Regions from separate parts of the Homo sapiens genome. Here regions 2, 3, 4 and 5 are each linked to region 1. The links come from fine-mapping of genetic effects on gene expression. A gene starts in region 1. Each other region holds a variant in brackets. All regions are shown on one strand. Distances are between the middles of the regions.

Region 1 (4,172 bases):
ATGCATTTAGGATATGTTGAAAGTTTTAAACAACTTTCTAGTAACATAAGGCTCTCTCCTACAAACATTCTCTGGACCAGCAAAGCCACCAAATGCTACAGCTGCTTTTTAAAAATAGTTTCATTTTACTTAAACAAAACAGACTTTAAAAAATTAAGTTTTCAGGCCAGACGCAGTAAGTAGTTCATGCCTGTAATCCCAACGCTTTGGGAGACCAAGGCGGAAAGATCACCTGAGCCCAGGAGTTCGAGAACAGCATGGGCAACATAGTAAGACCCCATTTAAAGAAAAGAAAAGAAAGAGAAAAAATTAGCCAGGCATGGTGGCATGTGCCTATAGTCCCAGCTACTCAGGAGGCTGAGGCAGGAGGATCGCTTGAGCCTGGGAAGTTGAGGCTGCAGTGGGCTGTGACTGTGCCACTGCATGCCAGCCTAGGCAACAGAAGAAGCCTCTGTTTCAAAAAAAAAAAAAATTTTTTTTTAAAGTTTTCTACTGAAAAATGAATGCTAGGTTAAATGACAAATGTGGACTGCACATGAGTTGAAGACGAGCCAATTCCTTTCTTACATTCTCTGTTCTAAAATCTGGTATACTGTAATCACCACCGTGATGTAAATCTCAGCCCAAACTTCAGCTCCTAATGGAAAATATGCACTACATTACTGTCATTAATCATTTTTAAATCTTCACTTTTGAAAAAATAAAATCTCTTTTTTCTAAGCTGCTTCAAAGAATTCTTGAATGTGTATGAACTTGGCTTAATGTTGCCGTAATCCAACTGAAGGACATCTTAATCTATTTGATGAAACAGTAGTTTTGTACCATGAAATTACTCTTTCGCTTCCGATAAATGTGGTATGAAGTAGACATCTAAAATGGAATGGAAATTTCTGTGGTTTTCTTTCAAGGCCACACCAAATAACCAAACTTAGACTCTTCAGGACAGCACAAATTAGAATAATCTGAAAATAACTTAATCTACAATTCACTGCCTACTTTTGATGCTGAGACTACTGGAGACATTGTTTCAGTAATCAAGTGACTGAGAACAAGCTGGATAAATGCATGTTAATGAAATGATTAGGGAATCAGAAATAGGAGAGATAGTCCTTCCAAGACATACATCCGAACGGGAGTCGATGCATACAAATGTGAAAAGAAGGCTAGAGGCATCTACAAAGCAGCCTGCTGCATTTGCCGACCACCTCAAGTACGAGTGACCCCGGGCTGCACCTTGTTTAGCTAGGAATACCGGCAAGCTGTTACAGCTGGACGCCTAGTGGTGGGAGCTTACTCTCGGGTGTCCACATTTAGAAGTCTAACAATCAGACCTGGTTTCACGTGCTTTGGTGCTACCCAGGTTTTCCTTATAATGGTTAGCACAAAACAAGGGACCCAGGTTAGCGATACCAGGAAGCCACGCATTGAATGACATTACAGAAACAGCCACATAAAAGTCAGGTGGATGGTGTCACCTTGGCAAGCAACTTAGCCTCTTTAGGCCTCAGTTTGCTCATCTGCAAAATGGGGATAATAATAGCTTTTTAGTAGAATTGTGAGAATTAAGTGAGATCACGTACTAAAGCCCATAGCACAATGCCAGTTTCAAGGCTTCTGAAGTCCATAGGTGAAATTCGCTGGCTTGGCAGGATCTAAGACAGCATAAAGGTCATGGTATATTTGTTTACAAGTTCTATAAATTGCAGCACCGATGCTTCTCGACCAAGTATTTACGTGGGACAAAGCTGCCATCAGCGGTTTCTCCAGAGCCTATGTTTTGGGGCTTTTGTCCCCATCCCCTCCAGGAGTGGAGCCGCCAACACAAACCAAAGGGCAATCACTGGTTTCATCAACAGGTGCAAAAGAAAAGGCGCCAGGCACAGGGTCAGGCCGGCTAAGTCAACACCCCGGGATCCTCATGAATACGCAAAGCGCCCCAGCCGGCTATCCAGCAACCATATCCTCTGGCGGCGCGGGCCGGAGATCCCCGTGGAGGGGCGGCCGGCCTCCGTGCGCCACCGGCCCAGCCAGAGTGCTCTCTCGAGTCCCCAGCCCCACTTCATTCAAACAGCCACCCCTCTGCGCGCGACCCCTACGCCCCGGCAGTCCCAGCGCCGCCCGATCCCCTCGGGAAGGGGGGGTACCCGTCTTCCCGAGGCTGGGCGAATGCGGGCGCCCTCTCCTCCGGGCGTCGCTGCCCCCGGCCCGGACTCACCCAGCGTGGCCACCGTGCCGGCCTCGAACAGCAGGCAGTCGTCGCGGCCGCGCGCCTCCAGCAGCACGCTACAGTCCCCCTCGGCCCCCAGGCGCCCCAGCAGCCGCAGCCCTTTGCTCAGGGCCATGAGGGTCGGGCCCACTGCGGGCGGGGGCCGGGGCCACGTCCTCCCGAGGGCGCGCTGCCCGCGACAGCTCCCCGCGCGCCCGCAACTTGCCAGAGTTTCACTTTGCGCCGCCGCTCCCGCCGCGCCAGGCTCCTCCCCGGCCTCCTCCCCTTCCTCCTCCTCCCCACTCGCGCCTCCCCAGCCTGGGGCAGGTGAGGGCGCGCCGCCGCCTCCCGCCCGGCCCCGCGCTCCCCCCAGCGGCCAGGCAGCTGCGCGAGGCCGCGCCCCGGGGCTGAGGCTCCCCGCAGGCGGGCGTGGAGCGGAAGAGCCTCCCGGATGCCACGCATTCCTCGCTGCGGAGGAGGATGCCCCGCGCGGGGCGACCCCGGGAGCCTGGCTGCGATGCCGGCCGCCCGCAGCCTTATATGGGCAGCCCGGCCCGGGAGTCCGCCAGGCTGGACCCGCTGACTGTTCCCGCCGGGGGCGCTGCGCCTCCCTGTGTGGTCGGCTCCTGCGACCCTGGACGAGTCCTTTCGACCCTGCGTGCCTCGGTCTCCCTGCGGGGAAGCGGGGTCATAACTGCGCCTACTTCGGCGCGGAGGCCTGAGTTAATTCGCGGAGGCGCTTAGCGGGTGCGGAGCGCGTGGAGCGGGCTGGAGAAAGGTTACCTTTCACTAGCGTTCTATCCCGGAGGCTGTTGCGGTCACCGACCCCGCCAGGGAGAGGTGTTGGGGGTCAACGGTGCGTTGTCGCGAAGAGACCTGGAGCCGTGATCCCCAGACCACGACCCCCACTTACCACGTGACCCTGACTTCTCTGCGCTCCACCTTCCTCTCCTGTCAGATGGTGACAGCGCCTCTCCCACCGGCTCTGGACACCGGCACGTGTCCGCGCGTGTACGCTGGAGTGTGTGGCCCGGCCTTCTGGCGCGGGGTTCTAGCGCCCAGGCTTGGCCTGTCAGAGCTGCAGGGGAGGTGGGGTGGGTATGGGTGTTTAGGGCTGAGTTGGAGTCACTCTTTGGGGTGGTTTGGCGGCTTAATTCCCTTCGCTTGTGATGGGTACGTGAGGATGGCCCGAGAAGCCTCCATCAGCTGTTTCCATCCTGCCCGCAAACGAACTCAGTTCCTCTCTCACCCCATTCTGCTGTACTGGGCCAAGCTGTTTGTCTCTGGGACTTGTCCTAGAAAGGGCAGAGCCCCCAGAGCCAAGCAGAACACTGCCATGCCCCTGCAGACATTCAGTAATGACCAGACAAGCCATCCTCAGGGGACAACCTCTCAGGTGATGGTTGGGTAATAAATTTGAACAACCCCAGCAGAGATTATCTTGACCCTTAGCCCCTTTCCTTGCCCACAAACTCTGCCCAGGTCAAGCATGATGTGCTCAATATCCCAGGCATGATGCTCATCAGCTGTCCGAGCAGCTTCTTTCTGTGTAGATGGAAACATTACTACCTCATGAAAACAGTGTGCCCATTCAGTGAGGCAGATCAGCCTTTGGCCCACTTTTTGACCTGAAACTCACTTCTTCCAGGAAGCTTTCCTGGAATGCTGAGGTCCCAGATAATAGTGCTTATATAACACCCAGATTTACAGACTTCAGTTCTCACCTACTCATATGTTGCTTGAGAAGTGTTTTTATGTTTTCTCTTAGCCCTGTTTTGCAAATTGAGTGGTAAGGCCTTAGGGAGGGGACCCAGTCTTCCATTTATCTCTCTCTCCTCTTTCCTAACTAGCATCATATAGTCTAAAGTCCTGCACAGTGGCATGCCATACCTATTTTAGAAATTTTCCTGCAGTCAGGACCAGCAGTTGAGCCTCACAGCTTATAGAATCCAAGTCACCATCAACT
Region 2 (4,172 bases), 210 kb before region 1:
ACTCCTGGACTCAAGCGATCTGCCTGCCTCAGCCTCCCAAAGTGCTGGGATTACAGGTGTGAGCCACTAAGCCCAGGCCGCAATGTATTTTAATCTAATATGTCCTTTCCTGTTGGGCTGACTTTGCATATGGCTGTTCCTATTTTTCTTTTTTAGATAAGTTTGATAAGTATTCTCATAGGGAATAAGGTACAAGTAGAATTTTTTTTTTTTTTTTTTTTTTTTTTGAGGCAGGGTCTCTCTGTTGTCCAGGCCAGAGTGCAATGGTGTTTTTGTAGCAACCTCGGACTCCTGGGCTCAAGCAATCCTCCCACCTCAGCCTCCCTAAGCTGTTTTCTTAATAAAAAAGAATACAGATGGGAAAATGTGACCAACAAAGTTTGAACAAGGAAAAACTAAACAAAGCAGCATGTGCCTTTCCCACTGGTTGTTTCTAACCCTCTTAAAAACAATATTCTGTTTTCAGGGAAATGCAAACTGTAGTTTACATTAGTTTTACATTGTCTTCCTCAATAGAGCTGACTGGTATGCAGGTAGGATTTGTGAGACGTACATAATGTCTAAGTCCCCACCTTGGCATATTCAAACAGCAAATCTATGACGTTTCTAACTGAAACCAAACAATCACATCCACGCAGCAAAAATGCACAGATCACAGGGATGAGCAAAATAAATACCTATGTTACACTGACATGGTATTAAAAAGGCAGGAAAAGCATTGACATTTGTATTTTAATAAAGGATAATAAAAGCCAAATTACAGCCAACTGTTAAAGCTTTTTTTTTTTTTAAATTCTATGGTAACAAAATCAGTTCAGGGGCTTTTTTTCTGAACAAATGATCATGATCCCTCAGTCTTTCCCGTGGCATGCTCCTAAAACAACCCTCTATGTCTAATCAGTCACCTAAGATATTGAGTGGCAAGTCTTTCACAGTTGCTGCTTATAATTCCTAAATGGTCCATATTGAGTATTTTCATTTCTGGGTAAGGGAAAAAGCATTTTGGTCCATTAATTCACCCACTCGCTCCTGGAGGACATTAACCAATTCTGCTATTACAAAGACGTGAGTGTCATCAATGTCTTGAATGATGAACTTCTTCCCCAGGGCATTGGACTCATCCAAGTACAGCAGAAACTGCTTCATGGCAGGATCACTGTAAAGACAAACACATGATTGTAAGACAGCTTGTTGTCAAATCACATCACAGAGACTTGAGCAATTAAATGTGAACATGTAGAATTTTTAGAATGATTTTTAAAGTTCTGTTACTCAATCCCTCACTTCCTCTCTGCCTCAAGTGTTAACAATTTATAGACATGGCTTCATTTTAGAACTATTAGTGTAAGTTGGCCGGGTGCGATGGCTCACACCTGTGATCCCAGCACTTTGGGAGGCCGAGGTGGGTGGATCACCAGGTCAGGAGATCGAGACCATCCTGGCTAACACGGTGAAACCCCGTCTCTACTAAAAATACAAAAAATTAGCCGGGTGTGGTGGCGGGTGCCTGTAGTCCCAGCTACTTGGGAGGCTGAGGCAGGAGAATGGTGTGAACCTGGGAGGCAGAGCTTGCAGTGAGCGGAGATCGTGCCACTGCACTCCAGCCTGGGCGACAGAGCGAGACTCTGTCTCAAAAAAAAAAAAAAGAACTATTAGTGTAAGTTGAAGAGGCAGAGGCCAATGGCAAGATTTTTAAAGAATAATTTGTCACTAAGTGGAAAAAATAAAAGAATATTGAAAGCTTTGTAGTTAGTAGGGCCTAGAATCACAGCTTTCTTAACTGATTTAAACACTGAATTTCTTCCTTGTCTATGCCCATTACATCTAAGGAACCAGTAGGTGTTCAATGTTTTACCAGTGACAAATTAACTTACAAAACCAGTTAAACAGTCACTTTGGTCAGGCAGGGTGTATATCAAGAGTCATACCTGGATTCAACCCCAGCTTCATCACTTACTTGTGTGACCTTGAATAGAATAGGTACTTAATCTCCCAGAGCCTCTGTTCCCAACCTCAAAAGTGAGGCTACATAACAGAATTGTTTACGGAAATTAAAGGAGATAATGTCAAGGACAGTGCTTGGCTTGTAATAGGCATTCAAGGAAAGAGGTCCAAATTCAATTTTATTAACTTGTGGTTTTTGGTTTGGAAAGAATAGGATAGTCATAAGGGAAAAGAGGGATACAATTTCTTCTCGGGCAGTACAGATTTACAGCAAAATGTCTCTTTCATAAAAACCTTGAATCATGACAAAGGACACTCTTTAGATCTAATACACAATGTGTTTAGCAAAAAATGAATATAAAAATGTCAAGCTGCACCACAGATTTTTGCAATTCTTGAGAAAAAAATCTCATATAATCTTTTGGTGTCTTGAGAAATGTCAATATCAATTGTAAAGGTAACAAT[TTAATC/C]CAAAAGATGTCACTATAATTTACTGAAAACAAGAAAAATAAGATTTAAGTACAAGCACAGGTATTAACTGATGCTAACACGGGATTTACTTCTATCCCTAGATGAGTATGAGCCTCAGAACTGATTTGGGGGACTTTGGGTTTTACCAAGTGACATGATTTAACTTACAAACTGACTTAAATTTTAACTGTAAGGATCATATTGGCTGCTGGGTTGAGAAAAGACTGGGAGTGGCAGAGGCAAGGATGGAAGCAGGGGACCCATGAGGTGACATCCAGGCAAGAGATGATGATTTTGATGTAGGTGGTAATAGTGGAGGTGATGAGAAGTGGTTGAATTCTAGATATATACTGACATAAAACCAACATAATTTGCTAATACTGGACATGAGCTTTGAGAAAGAGGAACAAGAAAACTCCAAGATTTTTCATCTGAGCAAATGGAAGACTGGAGGAGATTTTTACTGAGATAAAGAGGAATGTGTAAGATCTGCAGGTAAGATCAAGTTTGGTTTTAGGGTGGGCATGGTGGCTCATGCTGTAATCCCAGCACTTCGAGAGGCCTAGGCTGGAGGACTGCTTGAGGTCAGGAGTTAGAGACTAGCCTGGACAGCACAGTGAGACCCTGACTCTACTAAAAAAAAAAAAGGTTTAGTTTTTGATGTTATATTTTGAGATGCCTACTGGCCCCTGAGTGAAGAAGCTGAGTAAGAAGTGACCACCGAGGTAGAAAGAAAACCCAAAGAGTCCTGAAAGCGATGTGAACAAAGGCTACTCAGGAAGTGGGAGTGATCAATTCTGTCAAAGGCTTATAGGGTATAGCAAGGGCTGAAAATTGATCCCTGGATTCAGAAAGTCACTGGACCTTGGCAATAGCAGTTTTGGTGGAGTCATAATAGGGAAAGCATGACTGGAGTGGGTTTCATATGGGAGGAAAGAAATTAGAGACAGTGAAGAGAACCAAGTCTTCTCTTTACTGAGAAATTTTGCTACAACGACCAGAAAGGTAGACTGGAAGCTAGGAAGAGGTGTGGGACTCTGAACAGATGGGAATATCAACAGACCATAGGTCTGGCGAAGTTGAAGAAATGATGGAGTGAGGTATGAGAGGGAGTGAACTGGAAAGAGGAGGTGGTGGTCAGAGTCAGATGCCTGAAATGAGACTGAAGAGCTGGCACGAGGGTAAGGAAGGATAGGTCTAGCTACAACTATGTGAATGAGTGGCTGTGATGAGGTGGAGGACAAGCTCAGTGGAAGAGGAGGCCAGGGAACTGGGAGAACAGGGTATCTAAAGGACTACCCACACGGATACTAACATCACTAAGGATTTGAGAGAAGAGCTACTGAAGATAGTTTTTTCAAGGGAAAACCTTCAGGACAGATTGGGGTGTCTGTAGATGATTATAAAGAGGAGGGTTGGTGGGTAGTCCACTCTGATGATCTGGGATTGATAACTGGGGGTTTCTATGGAAGAGGGAGGGAGAATTTCTGGAAGTGGCAATAATAAGCAAGGTACTGATCCTGTTTCCTGACCCAATGGTACAAGAGGGTGCCTTTGTAGAGGAAAAAAGGCACCACCTGATAAGGTGGTGGGAGAAGCAGTGAGCTCAGGACAAAGTCAGGTTTTGTCACAGCAAAAAAGGAAAAGGTGGGTGGGGGAAGGAAAAAGGAAAGTTCAGAGAAGAGGCTGAGGCTACAGGGCATCCTGCTGCTGCCATCTCACTATGTCCCAGAGGGCAAAGTGGAAAGGATTGCGGT
Region 3 (4,172 bases), 97 kb before region 1:
ATCGCCAGCACAGGTCTGCGTTAGGAACAAAAGAGGGATGACAGTTAGCCTGGGACAGATGTCCACACCCCCGGCCTCCAGTCCCCAGTTAGCCTGGGACAGATGTCCACATCTCCAGCCCCCAGTCCCCAGCTGCTGTCCCCCAGGGCTCTTTGTAAACAGTCAACACCAACAACCTGCGAATGTGGCCACCAGCAGGTGGATTTGCAGGCTAGCTGCCCTGCTCTGGCGTTTTAGTCTTCATCTTTCCTTAACCTTAGTATCACCTTGGCATTTTTATCTAAAGATGATTTGAGGGGGAAAATAAAGTGTGGCACCTTAAAGATGTATCCCAGTACTTGGAAAATAACCAGCCATCAGCAAAGATTTTTGACATGGTAATCCTCAGTACCACCAAGGAGGTGGGGAAGCAGACATCTGCACTCTGCCAGGGGTGCAAGCTTTTCAGAGGGTTACTTGGCACTTTACATAGAGTTCCAAAATTGTTCATCTCTTTTCACCTAGTAATCTCACTTCTCGGACTTTATTCTAAGGAAATGACCAGGGATTCAGACAAAGATTTAATGCATGAGGTTGATCATTTACAGCATTGTTGATGGGAGGGAAAAAAAAAAAGGGAAATGCTCGTTTTTTTTTTTTTTTTTATTTTGAGTCAGAGTCTCCCTCTGTTGTCCAGGCTGGAGTGCAGTGGCGCGATCTCAGCCCACTGCAACCTCCGCCTCCCGGGCTCAAGTGATTCTCCTGCCTCAGCTTCCCAAGTAGCTGGGATTACAGGCGCATGCCACCATGACCAGCTAATTTTTGTATTTTTGGTAGAGATGGGGTTTTGCTGTGTTGGCTAGGCTGGTCTTGAACTCCTGACTTTAGGTGATCCGCCTGCCTCAGCCTCCCAAAGTGCTGGGATAAAGGCGTGAGCCACTGCGCCAGGCCAAAATGCTCTGTTTCTTAATGGGGAAACAGTTATGATACCTTCATATAATACCCTACGCAATCATTAGGAATAATGTAAAAATCAATGATGTAAACAGGAAAACAGTCCAGCAGGAAATAATGCAATCCTTATAGTAATTCTGACACAGGGATGGTTATTACTCTATAAATTTCCAGAAAATCCTATATTACGAAAATTACACAGCCTGATTGAAAATAGCTCGACTCTGGCCTGACTCCTGCCACTACTTTTTTTCTTTCATAGCACACATGTTTGTTTATTGTCTGTTTGTCCTGTCCAGAAAATTCCATGATAACATGGTCTCATCTGTTTTGTTCACTGCTTTTCTCCAGGCCAGCAACAGGGCCTGGCATGTAAGGGCCCCTCAAGAAATATTGGTTAAATTAAGGTTTCAAAATACATTGAGCTAGCAAACCTTGATGTCACATATCTGAAGATTCCTCAAGATTCACTTCTAGGTATGTATTTGCAACAACAGGTATCTAAAGAATTTAGAATTATCTAAAGAGTCTGGGCATGGTGGCTGTAATCCCAGTACTTTGGGAGGCTGAGGCGGGCACATCACTGGAGGCCAGGAGTTGGAGACCAGCCTGGCTAACATGGCAAAACCGTTTCTACTAAAAATACAAAAATCAGCCGGGCATGGTGATGCACGCCTGTAATCCCAGCTACTTGGGAGGCTGAGACATGAAAATCACTTATACCCTGGGGGTGGAGGTTGCAATGAGCCAAGATTGTGCCACTGCACTCCAGCCTGGAGGACTCTGTCTCAAAAAAAAAAAAAAAAGGTTTTTTCGTTGACCAACTGTTCTTACCTTCTTTTTCTTAATTTCTTTCCTTGTAAAAGTTGAAACTGACATGAGAGTTTAGGCAGCAGCCTTGGGAAGATCAAACTCTTCCTTCTTCACACCCTCAAATGCCATCCTCTCCTCTGTCTTTAAAGACATTCTGCAGGGTGAGTCTTCCTCTGCAGCAATCCCAGGGCACAGGTGCTGGTGCCCACGGTGCTCCCTCTGCTGCCTCCACTCTATCCTCAATGCATGATGCACAGAGCATTTAAAAAGCCCTGCATCCTAGGGCCAGGTGCGGTGGCTCACGCCTGTAATCCCAACACTTTGAGAGGCCAAGGTGGGTGGATCACCTGAGGTCAGGAGTTTGGGACCAGCCTGGCCAACATGGTGAAACCCCGTCTCTACTAAAAACACAAAAATTAGCCAGGCATGGTGGTGTGCACCTGTAATCCCAGCTACTTGGGAGGCTGAGGCAGGAGAATTGCTTGAATCTGGGAAGCGGAGGTTGCAGTGAGCTGAGATCACACCACTGTACTCCATCCAGCCTGGGCAATAGAGCAAGACTCTCTCTCAAAAAAAAAAAAAAAAAAAAGGTTGTGCATCCCAGATTTAAAAACCCTATGGTGTTTGTAATCATAAAATCCTGGAGAAAATATTCATCAAGAGGTGAATGGATAAGTTGTAAGTTCCATGGATATATTTAGTGGGATACTAGACAGCAGTTACAAATGAATGCACCAGAGCTATAACATCAACACGACTGTATCTCAAAAATAGTAACAAAAAAGCAAGTTGCACAACGACATCATTTAAGAAAATATAAAAGCC[G/A]CAAAATACGTAGGTTGCATCTTTGAAATTTTCATCAATGATGTCATTTATGATATGGAGCAATGACAAAATGCTAAGATTAATTAGTTCTTGGTGGTGGGTCCACAGATATTTGTTCCATCATTCTTTGTTCTTTGGTGTATTGTATGCACACAAAATGCACCCCCATGCGCACACACATCCTTATGGGGACAGCATGCATTTTCCTGCGGAGAGGGAGACGCTGCCTTGCCCAGCACAGGAGAAAACGCCATGGAAGTCAGGACCTCACCTGTGATCAGACGCTTGTAGCTCCGCACGACCATAATACTGCAGGGCACCAGGAGACCAGGTGTGTCTGACTTTGGTGTCAACATCTAGATCACTGTCTAGAAGGTTGAGTTCTCCAGCTACTCGCAGGGGTTCCATTCGAGAGACCCATATAGAATCGAGTCAATATCCAAGAATGCGATCATGACACTTCCACAATAGAGGTCTGCGCCACGAACCACCCCACGTCCCAGACTCATCCTCCTTACTCCTCCACCTTGAAGCCAGGCTTCGGATGCTTTGGGGCCTTTGGTTAAAAACATTCCTCGCATATAATTATTCAAAACAGTCATGACCATGCCTGCAGTCCTCGCCAGCATGCCCACTGTAGGCTTGAGACACAGTGTTGCTGCCGGGTTTCCAGGACCCAGGAATCCCAGAAGGTTGGCAGCAATTGGTATGGTAAGAGCTGCAGGAGCTGAGAACACTCGGACTCATTCTAGGCCCCACCTCTCAGAGCGCTGGGGCCACACAGGCGTTCACAAACTCATCTAGAGGAAAATTTGTATTTTCTTTTCACAGATGCAATTTCCTGGCTATGCTCTCCCAAAATGTGTAATTAGGTTTTTTTTTTTTTTTTTTTTTTTTTTTTTATGTACTAGTTACAGATATTCTAACTTTAAATAAACTTCACTTCCTAGCTGGGCATCAACAGTTGTTCAAAACATACTTGACAACTAATGATTTTTAAAAACTAACTTATTTTTACTGTGTCTTGCTCGTGTCCAATTTGGAATTAGGGCTTTAAGCAGGTAAAAGTGTAGCTGAACAAAATAGGCTGGATAAAGAACATGAGGGGGAGCATGGGGGGCAGGGAGGGAGGCAACCTCATGCTCCCCGCTTTCCCCACCCAGAAAAAAGAGGTGGGGGTGTGGGGGGGAGCTGTGATGCAGGGGCAGCCAGGAGCAGACCTATTTGCAGGTCACTGTCTCTAGAAAGAGACCAGAGGAGGCCAGGCGCAGTGGCTTATGCCTGTAATCCCAGCACTTTGGGAGGCCGAGGTGGGCAGATCACCTGAGGTTGGGAGTTCAAGACCAGCCTGACCAACATGGAGAAACCCCGTCTCTACTAAAAATACAAAATTAGCTGGGCATGGTGGTGCATGCCTGTAATCCCAGCACTCAGGAGGCTGAGGCAGGAGAATGGCTTGAACCCAGGAGGTGGAGGTTGTGGTGAGCCAAGATCACGCCATTGCACTCCAGCCTAGGCAACAAGAGTGAAACTCTGTCTCAAAAAAAAAAAAGAAAAGAAAAGGGAAAAAAAGAGGCCAGAAGCAGAGGCTCCCTGAAAGC
Region 4 (4,172 bases), 65 kb before region 1:
CCATGTCCCCACCTGCAGAGCCGTGTCCCCACCTGCAGAGCTGCATGCATACCAGCAGAGGCATGTCCATACCTGCAGAGCCTCAGGGACACCATGACCAGGCTCAGCTTGCCACAGCTGCTTCCCTGGGCTCAGGGCCTCAGGCTGGGTCCCTCCATCCCCTAAACAAGTTGTATTATTGGACTTGTCTAACCGCCTCTCCCTGAGTCATGACCCTAAGCTGCTTCTTTTAGGCAGGTGGAAAGGCAACACAGTGAGGCCTTGGGCAAAAGTGGAGGGGAGCTGGGCCTCATGTTCTCTCCGGAGCTCACCCTTCCTCCGTCACCCCGTGCATCCCTTTTGTCTGGGTTCCTTGGGCCTCATATCCTTCCTCCCCTCTGTCCTGCTCCAACACTGACCAGCATCCACCTTCTCTGGTGTCACCTAGTCCTGAGGTCACTGGGTGTCAGAAGCCACAGGCACGAGCTGCAGCTGAGGGCAGGGTCCACCACTGTCACTGCATTTTGTAGCTTCCCTTCTCCTCCACCCCGTCCTCCTCCCCTCTGGGCAAAGGGCCAGCTACTCTTATCTGGCCCCTAAAGTCATTAGTTCAATCCTATAGACCAGAGACTGAGGTTAGGTAGACAGCCATGAGGATAGTCGGGGTCTGGAGAACTCCTGGCTGTGGAAGTCACAGCAGAGTCTCGATCAGCACTCAAGAGGCCCAAGGATCGCAGACAGCACCTCCACACCTCTCCCCTGCACCCCACCACTCCTACCAGACTTAAGGTTACCCAAAAATCTCAGCTCAACGGCCTCCCATCTGGTGTCTTTCCCCTCCAAACTAACACTGCCTAGACTTCTGTCTAATTGTGTCTCTACCTCTTGCAGCCCTTTAGCAGTGTCCAGTGTGTGCTGGAGCCAGCTCCTGCAGGCTTGCAAGCCGACGGTGCACCCAGCTGGTCCCAACTCTGAGCTCAGTGATGTGGAGCCGTAGGTTGAAAGTGGCCACGATGGGAGAATTTACACCACAGCAATGGACAAATGCTACAAACCAAAGCTCCCTGCACCCAGTCTGACCCCAATAAAACTGGCTTGCCAGCACAGCACCGAGTGGTTCCCATACTTTTCTGCATGCTGGAGTCACCCATGGGTCTTCAAAAAGGACAGCTGCCTGGCTCCCGGCCCCAGATATTGTGACTTAATGTGTATGGTATCAACCTGGGTATCAGGATTTTTCAAGCTCCCCAGCAGAGTCTTCTGTGCAGCAAGGTTGGGGAGTACTGCTTGAGTAGCTGCTGGTATGGGATGCAAACTCCTCAGTGTAGCATCCACAGGCCCTTGACCCAGCCCTGCTCACCTCTCCTATCTCTCCTCCCATTCCCTTCATGCCCAGGACTTCAAGAAGCTACCCAGTGATGCTCCCTGATCACTGTGAACCCAAGGGTTACAACACCTGCACCCATTGTTCCCTCTGCAAGGGCTGCCTTCCTTGCCTGAGTGCTTCTTCCTCACCCCTCCCCAGTCTGGACCCTTGGGCAGCCCACCCCACACCCTCAGCCTGGGAGAGCTGCCCCCGGGGCCTCTCCCTTCCTCCAACACGGCTCTGTCCACACAACACTGCCCTGTCCTGCCCCCTGCTCCCTGAAGGTAGGGACTGTATCTGATCCCTGGTGCCCCCTACACCTGGCAGACGCTCAGTGAATGTTTGGGATGAATAAATGGCTTCATCTGGGGTTACTGATTTACGATGAGTCTATGAGGGATGAGAGATAAGACTGACCAGGAAGCTGTCTTCATGTTACTACATCTCACGGTGTCCCTGTTCCCACAAAGACAGGAGGAAACTCTCATTCAGTGCTCACGGCACCAAGAGCCATGCTTCTCCGGATGCCACCATTGGTTTTATCTCCTGGGTGTTATCATTTGTTTCTATTAGTATCAATAGCAGCTGCCATTTTGAGTACTTTTTAGATTCTAGATACTGTGTGTTTTTTTTTTTTTTTTTTTTTTTTTTTTTTTGACAGAGTCGCACTCTGTTGACCAGGCTAGAGTGTGGTGGCACAATCTTGGCTCACTGCAAACTCCGCCTCCCAGGTTCAAGTGATTCTCCTGCCTCAGCCTCCTGAATAACTGGGATTACAGGAACCTGACACCATGCCTAGCTAATTTTTGCATTTTTAGTGGGGATGGGATTTCACCATGTTGGCCAGGCTTGTCTTAAACTCCTGACCTCAAGTGATCTGTCCACCTTGGCCTCCCAAATTGCTGGAATTACAGGCATGAGCCCCCATGCCCAGCCAAATTCTTATATTACGCTCTTTAATCCTCTCTAGAACCCTATAAGGTAGATATTGTTAGCCCCATTTTACAGAAAAGTAAACTAAGGCTTGGCACAGATAAGAGCCTCTCAAACACACATGGTTACAAAGCAGGGGAGCCAGAGTTTGAATTTGAGCCCAGGTCTGCGTC[G/A]CTTCAAAGCTCGTGCTCTGAGTCACTGTCATAAACTGGCTGTGACTGTGGTTCTTTCTGTGGTGGCTGCGGGGAAGCTTGGAACAAGCGTCAGGTTCCTTCCCACGCACACAAGACCCACGGCATGCATCGTGGGCACCAATTCGACTCTTGCCCTTCATCCAGACCTCTTCACTTATTTTTGAAACTGTTATACTACAAGCCATCTCATGTCCTTTTTGGAAAAAAGGAAGGTACAAACACACAAGCCCATCCAGCGCCACGACTCCACAAACTTGGCGAATGGTTTCTGGCAGGAAAGAGGTGAAGGCAGGGCAAGAGGGGTCTGCTCTACTCGGCATCCTCCTCCGTTTGGTTCAGTTGCAGGAAACTTCAAAAGACAGACTGAACTCACCTTGGCAAGGCACGTGTCTATACAGCATATGGTGGGGGGAAGCTTCTACAATGACCAGGGGAGCAACGTTGTCAACCACAGACACAGATCATAAATAGATTCTCGAACTAGCTAGACCAGGGAGCAATTTGCTTTAAGGGTAAAATTTCAATGTGGCTATTTATAAACTGCACAGCCCATTTACACGTAAAAATGAAATTTATTAAAGGTACACGGCTGCTAGAAATGGAGTCAGGAAGTACTGAAGGTACCATTACCCAGGAAAACATGCAGACAAATCCTCATCCACCACCCTCTGCTCAACCCTGCCCCATCCTGCTGGGCTCCTGGGTTTCCAACGGCAGCTGTCAAGGAGGGACAGCATTGCAGCTTAATACGCAAGCTACTCACCCCAAAATCTTTGCACTTTTCATCTAACCTAAGTGAAGAAGGAAGAGAAAAAGTTCAAAGTGGAGAAAAATAACTAGAAGCAGCCTTAGGCTTGATAGTGACAGTTGAAGCCGGTGACGGTAGACCACCACTTCCCGCTGCCCTCCCGGCCCCCTGTGAAGATGACTTCATCTCTCTTTGATGATGAGTGGTGTTTAGAGGCTAAACACAGGTATTAGGCCCAAAGGTTAGCAAATCCTTAATAAGATTAAGGAACACTAAAGCCTTCTGAAGCTTGTTTTGAAGAAACCATGGAGGCCGGGCGCGATGGCTCACGCCTGTAATCCTAGCACTTTGGGAGGCCGAAGCGGGCAGATCACTTGAGGTCAGAAGTTCAAAACCAGCCTGGTCAACGTGATGAAACCCTGTCTCTACTAAAAATACAAAAAAAATTAGCCAGGCATGGTGGTGGGTGCCTGTAACCCCAGCTACTTGTGAGGCTGAGGCAGGAGAATCTCTTGAACCCAGGAAGTGGAGGTTGCAGTGAGCCGAGGTCGTGCCATTGCACTCCAGCCTGGGTGACAGAGCAAGACTTCGTCTCAAAAACAAAACAAAACAAGAAACAAAAAGAAGAAACCATGGAGGCTTTGGTGCAGCACAAATGTTAGGAATTTAAGAGGGTGAAACAGCTGCCAAAAAGCTGAGACCTCGTGGTCCACTGCTCCTGGCCCCTGACAGACCAAGGCACAGTCATCCCATGGCGGGTCAGGCTACATCTGAGGCAGCACGAAGGTCAAGGTAAGACCAAAATGAAATCCAAGAGGGGAACGACAAAAAGGAGTGTCATTTTTTAGATGAGGGAGATGAGAACATTGAGAGTCTTAGAAACAGGAGGGAAGGTGGCCAAAGGAGTTGGGAGGCCTTAGAGAAGACAAGAAGAAGAAGAGGGAACCAGAAG
Region 5 (4,172 bases), 79 kb before region 1:
TCCGCCTCCCAGGTTCAAGCGATTCTCCTGTCTCAGCCTTCCAAGTAGCTGGGACTACAGGTGCGTGCCATCACACCCGGCTAATTTTTGTATTTTTAGTACAGACGGTGTTTCACCACATTGGCCAGGCTAGTCTCGAACTCCTGACCTTGTGATCCGCCCACCTCAGCCTTCCAAAGTGCTGGGATTACAGGTGTGAGGAAACATGTTCTAAGAGGGAACCCCTCACCTCCTCATCAATAGCCCCCCAGAAACCCCAGTGTCCATCCCAGTGGATCCCCAGCACTTCTGGAAAGGCAGGCAGACCCCAGGACACACACTCAGTAGCCTGCACAGCTGGGTCGTTTTACGTTTAGCTGGTCCTTGTTATTTATAGCAATTATGTTCTATAAAGTTGTAGGAACACTGAATTGGACATGAACACAGAACCATCGCTCCTAGGGGAAATATAGGGTTAGGTTCCTGCAAACCTCTGGTCACATTTTTATCAACTGATCAATATACAACCTTGTTTTATGTATGTTTCCATATAAAGACACCTTATTGAATATATATATTTGCTTAATTAACACTGAACCATGGCCGACAGCACTGTAGCTCATATAGGGACAAAGCTTATCTTAACGTGCATTTTCTCCATAAAGCACATCACCACCTTCTTGTGCTCAGAAGTACTAGACAGCTCTTCGGCACACTGCTTGGGGCCATTCTAAACCATGAGATCCCCGAACAAAGGGGGGCCCCTAACAAAGACCCCACAAATGTGAAAAACATGGTACTAAATCTTAAAAAGGAAACTTGTTTAAATACGAGGCCAGAGTATTTAAATACTCTGTCCAGCAAAAATGCTTTGCATACTGATTTTGGGGTTACAAATCAGTTTTAAGGAATAGGTAAATAAGCCAATATGGAATCTGCAAATAATGAGGACCCCCTGCATGTGACCTGAGGGAACTGGACTTCGTTTTTCTCCTCTGCTCTGAACAGGGAAGTCCATACCCTGGTCTCCTCTAGCAATCTAAGTCTATGCCAGCCATCCCACCGCGACTGTGGCCCTCACTCTCACAGGCCTGCGTCACAGCGTGGAGCTCCATGTTTTAATGCAGTCCCCTTTATTAGTTCATTTCTTTTGCCAGAAAACCATGACTCAACATCTCCTTGAGAAATTCAAAAGCCTGTCTCCTACTGTGGGAAGGGAGATGAGAAGCTGGAACCCAAGATTCCCGGCGTCGCCAAGCTTATGACCCAGGAAACCACAAGGGTAACTGAGTGGGGAGGGAAGGAAGCTGCCCCTCATAGGGCACATGTCCTAGACTGCACGGCCCCTCTGCCGCCTCACCCAGCAGAAGGCACAGCACGCAGCGAGCCTCACCGTGGACTGACGCTTCCCCCCAGCAGAAGACGCGGCACAGTGCGCAGCGAGCCTCACCGTGGACTGACGTTCTCCCCCTTTGTGAACACATCGAAGTCTTCCCAGTGCAGCTTTAACTGTGGCCTCAAGAGGGTCTCCAATTTCTCTAGCTTCCCACCTTTGGCAAACTGATGGAAGTCAAAATTGATCATAGGCGTGTCGCCCGCGTGGCAAGAAGCCCAGAGCAGCTTCTGAAAAGAGGAGGGGAGGGCGGTGAGGGGAGCAGAGGGAAGGGAGGACGAGGAGGGCAAGCTCCTTGCAGAGCTTGACCCGTGCGGCTAACCAAGGTGACTCGCCGCAGGACGTGCTTTAGCTGGAAGCTCACAGTGGACCAGGCAGTTGACCCCAAAAGGGAAGCACAGGACAAAGGCCCTGGGGGGACAAAACCCACAAAGAGCGTCTTGCCTGCGAAAGGGCAGAAGGTCCCCCTTGAGCAAAAGAAGCCAGAGCAGGTGTGGCTTCCTGGAGAGATCATACTCCTGCAGGGCTCTCTGGAGGGCACAGGTGAGGAAGGACTGCTCTGTTCTTCAGGTGGCCCAGGTGCCCCAGGCCCTCAGAGATAGCAGTGCTGTGGCAGGCTGCAGAGCTCATAATCCAGCTCCCCGTTGCCCTAGTAACCGGCCCCATCCTGCCGCGCACCAGCCTCTGGTGGTTATGCTCTGAAGAGACCAAGTCTCCAGCTGAAGTGGCCCAGGTGGGTCCCACATCCCGATGCTACTTCAGGATGGTCAGGGAGCCAGAGTGAAGGTGGGGAGAGATGGGAAGCAGGTCAAGGGGCTGCTGATGGCACCAGGATGCCCTTAAGAGCCCTCCCTTCCATATGAGGCTTCCCTGGCCTGGCAGCTCCCTGGCTTTCTCCCCAGAGAGCCCCGTGATGAAGGACAAACTGTCCGCCTACCCAGGCCACCCGGCTTCCAGGCCTCTCACCCTGCACTCATGCCCTTGTGGCTTCAGGTCAGGCCAGTCCAGCCTCTGCCCAGCCAGAGGTCCTAGTGACTTGGAAGGACTAGAAGGACTTGGGGGTCATCTGATCTGACTCAACGTGACTGCCTGTGATAGGTCTGAGTGTAAATCAATGCAGTGCTGCCATCATCAAGCAAGTCTTGCTGTGAGCAAGAAGCTGGAGGAGCCCAACAGTGCCTGGTGGCTCAGTGCCATGCATTCCACAGCCAGTGCTTCATCCAGCAGGACTGATGGCCATTGGGCCCTGGGCAGGCTGC[T/C]GGGCCACCAACCTTGGTCTGGGCCAAGCTGAGGTGGCTGAGGGCCACCCCAGGCAGGGCCATGACCCAGGTCTTCAGCTAGAGTGCCCCTCCCTACCTGGCCAGGAGCCCACCCTTCTCCGCATGAGGTGGCTGCCATCTCCCGCCCTCACCAGTGCCGGGCACTTCACCCACTGATGGGAGGGGCCACAACTCAAGGCATAGGGGAAAAGGACTTGGGGTTCTTATTATTATTCTTATTTTTTAGCTTTTTCCCTTCTTCCTTCAAATTAGCAGCCAGCATCACTGCCAAGATGGGTGGGAAGGGAGACACTTCTGGAGCTCGTTGCTAATAGCAACAAACCAAACAGGAAAAGCAGGTCTGGCCAAATAAAATTGGCAACCAGGAAGTGCCTGCTCTGAGCATGAGCATGTGGCATTTCTAAGCAGAGGGAAAGGCTCAGAGATCGCCCTAACCCCCAGTGAGGCGACTTCGAGCTCTCTCTGTAAGGGATATCTTTGAGCTTTAAACAACGAGAGAGTTTTTCTCTATTAGGCAGGGGACATGGAGGCTGGTAAAGGAACCAGGAGCCCCCTTGGCTCATTCTGGAACGTCTTGCGCCTGGGGAGCAGGGGGCGGGGGCTGGAGGCCTGGGATCCATGCACAGGGATGGAACCTGGCCAGGTGGGCGGAGTCTCTTGCTCCCATGGCTCTGTGACCCTGCCCAGGATCTGTCCAGGATCGCCAGGAAAAGCCCCCCAAGGAAGTCTGAAGGAGCCCACAGGAGCCCAGCAGCAGCAGGTCCAGGAGCTGCCATGAAAGCCCGAGGAAGAGGGGGAAATTTGAAGGCCAGCCGGCAAGCAGGGGAAAGCCACCGAAGTTCCTGCTCCTGAGCCCTGAGGCCGGGTGCCCTGTGGGGCTGGGGGAACTCACCCAGGACCAGCCAGGGCAGAAAGGGAGGCCTGCCTGCTCCTGGGCTGGACTGAGAGGGGTACCTTGAGAGGTCAGAAGCCCTCAAAGCCCCATGGGGAGGGAGGGTAAGGGACACATGGCTGGGGACAGGAGATGCTCTGTTTTGACTTTGAGCAAATTCTCCCAACCATCAGCTCACAGAAATTACACTCACTAGGCCGGGCGCGGTGGCTCACGCCTGCAATCCCAGCACTTTGGGAGGCCGAGGCGGGTGGATCACCTGAGGTCAGGAGTTCTTGACCAACCTGAACAACATGGTGAAACCCCGTCTCTACTAAAAATACAAAAATTAGCCAGGCGTGGTGGCAAGTGCCTGTAATCCCAGCTACTTGGGAGGCTGAGGGAGGAGAATCGCTTGTACCTGGGAGGCAGAGGTTGCAGTGAGCTGAGATTGCACCACTGCACTCCAGCCTGAGCGACAAGAGCCAAACTCTGTCTTAAAAAAAAAAAAAAAGAAAAGAAATTACACTCACTGTATCAGGGCCCGAGTCACTGAGCACTGCCGTGTTCACTGGTCGGAATGCTGGGGAAGCCTCAGGAAACGAAGGAGGGCTGGGCTGTCAGCTCCAGTCCCTGCAGGAGCCACCTC

Which allele goes with the higher level. Positions count from the first base shown, and alleles are read on the strand shown. Sizes are in standard deviations (SD) of each study's normalised expression. Not every link is listed here.
For the expression in monocytes of the gene that starts at base 2,441 in region 1, G is the low allele of the variant in region 4 and A is the other (moderate effect, 0.57 SD a copy in Quach 2016).

The links. PIP is the estimated chance that this variant, and not a neighbour inherited with it, causes the effect. A credible set is the group of variants that fine-mapping cannot tell apart.
Region 2: its variant is the best candidate, but not a certain one, in a credible set for the expression of SYNJ2 in whole blood (TOPMed, PIP 0.57).
Region 3: its variant is the best candidate, but not a certain one, in a credible set for the expression of SYNJ2 in whole blood (INTERVAL, PIP 0.53).
Region 4: its variant is the best candidate, but not a certain one, in a credible set for the expression of SYNJ2 in monocytes (Quach 2016, PIP 0.56).
Region 5: its variant is the best candidate, but not a certain one, in a credible set for the expression of SYNJ2 in whole blood (INTERVAL, PIP 0.56).

What each region holds. Positions count from the first base shown.
Region 1 is chr6:157,980,132-157,984,303 of GRCh38, reverse strand. It overlaps SYNJ2 (synaptojanin 2), which reads right to left and starts at 2,441. Exons shown (of 27, transcript NM_003898.4): 1 at 2,216-2,441. The coding sequence starts at 2,342. RefSeq lists enhancers at 2,160-2,675, 2,876-2,925, 2,946-3,135, 2,676-3,191, 3,156-3,205 and a silencer at 2,176-2,755.
Region 2 is chr6:158,188,961-158,193,132 of GRCh38, reverse strand. It overlaps GTF2H5 (general transcription factor IIH subunit 5), which reads right to left. Exons shown (of 3, transcript NM_207118.3): 3 at 1-1,156. The coding sequence ends at 976. Among named protein-coding and RNA genes, the nearest start is that of GTF2H5, 23 kb to the right of the region's middle. The variant TTAATC/C (reference allele first, on the strand shown) is at 2,410.
Region 3 is chr6:158,076,952-158,081,123 of GRCh38, reverse strand. It overlaps SYNJ2 (synaptojanin 2), which reads right to left. Exons shown (of 27, transcript NM_003898.4): 18 at 2,843-2,960; 19 at 1-15. Among named protein-coding and RNA genes, the nearest start is that of SYNJ2-IT1, 78 kb to the right of the region's middle. The variant G/A (reference allele first, on the strand shown) is at 2,572.
Region 4 is chr6:158,045,604-158,049,775 of GRCh38, reverse strand. The region is part of intron 5 of SYNJ2 (synaptojanin 2); the gene reads right to left. Among named protein-coding and RNA genes, the nearest start is that of SYNJ2-IT1, 47 kb to the right of the region's middle. RefSeq lists an enhancer at 1-310. The variant G/A (reference allele first, on the strand shown) is at 2,452.
Region 5 is chr6:158,059,422-158,063,593 of GRCh38, reverse strand. SYNJ2 (synaptojanin 2) reads right to left here. Exons shown (of 27, transcript NM_003898.4): 8 at 1,430-1,602. Among named protein-coding and RNA genes, the nearest start is that of SYNJ2-IT1, 60 kb to the right of the region's middle. The variant T/C (reference allele first, on the strand shown) is at 2,632.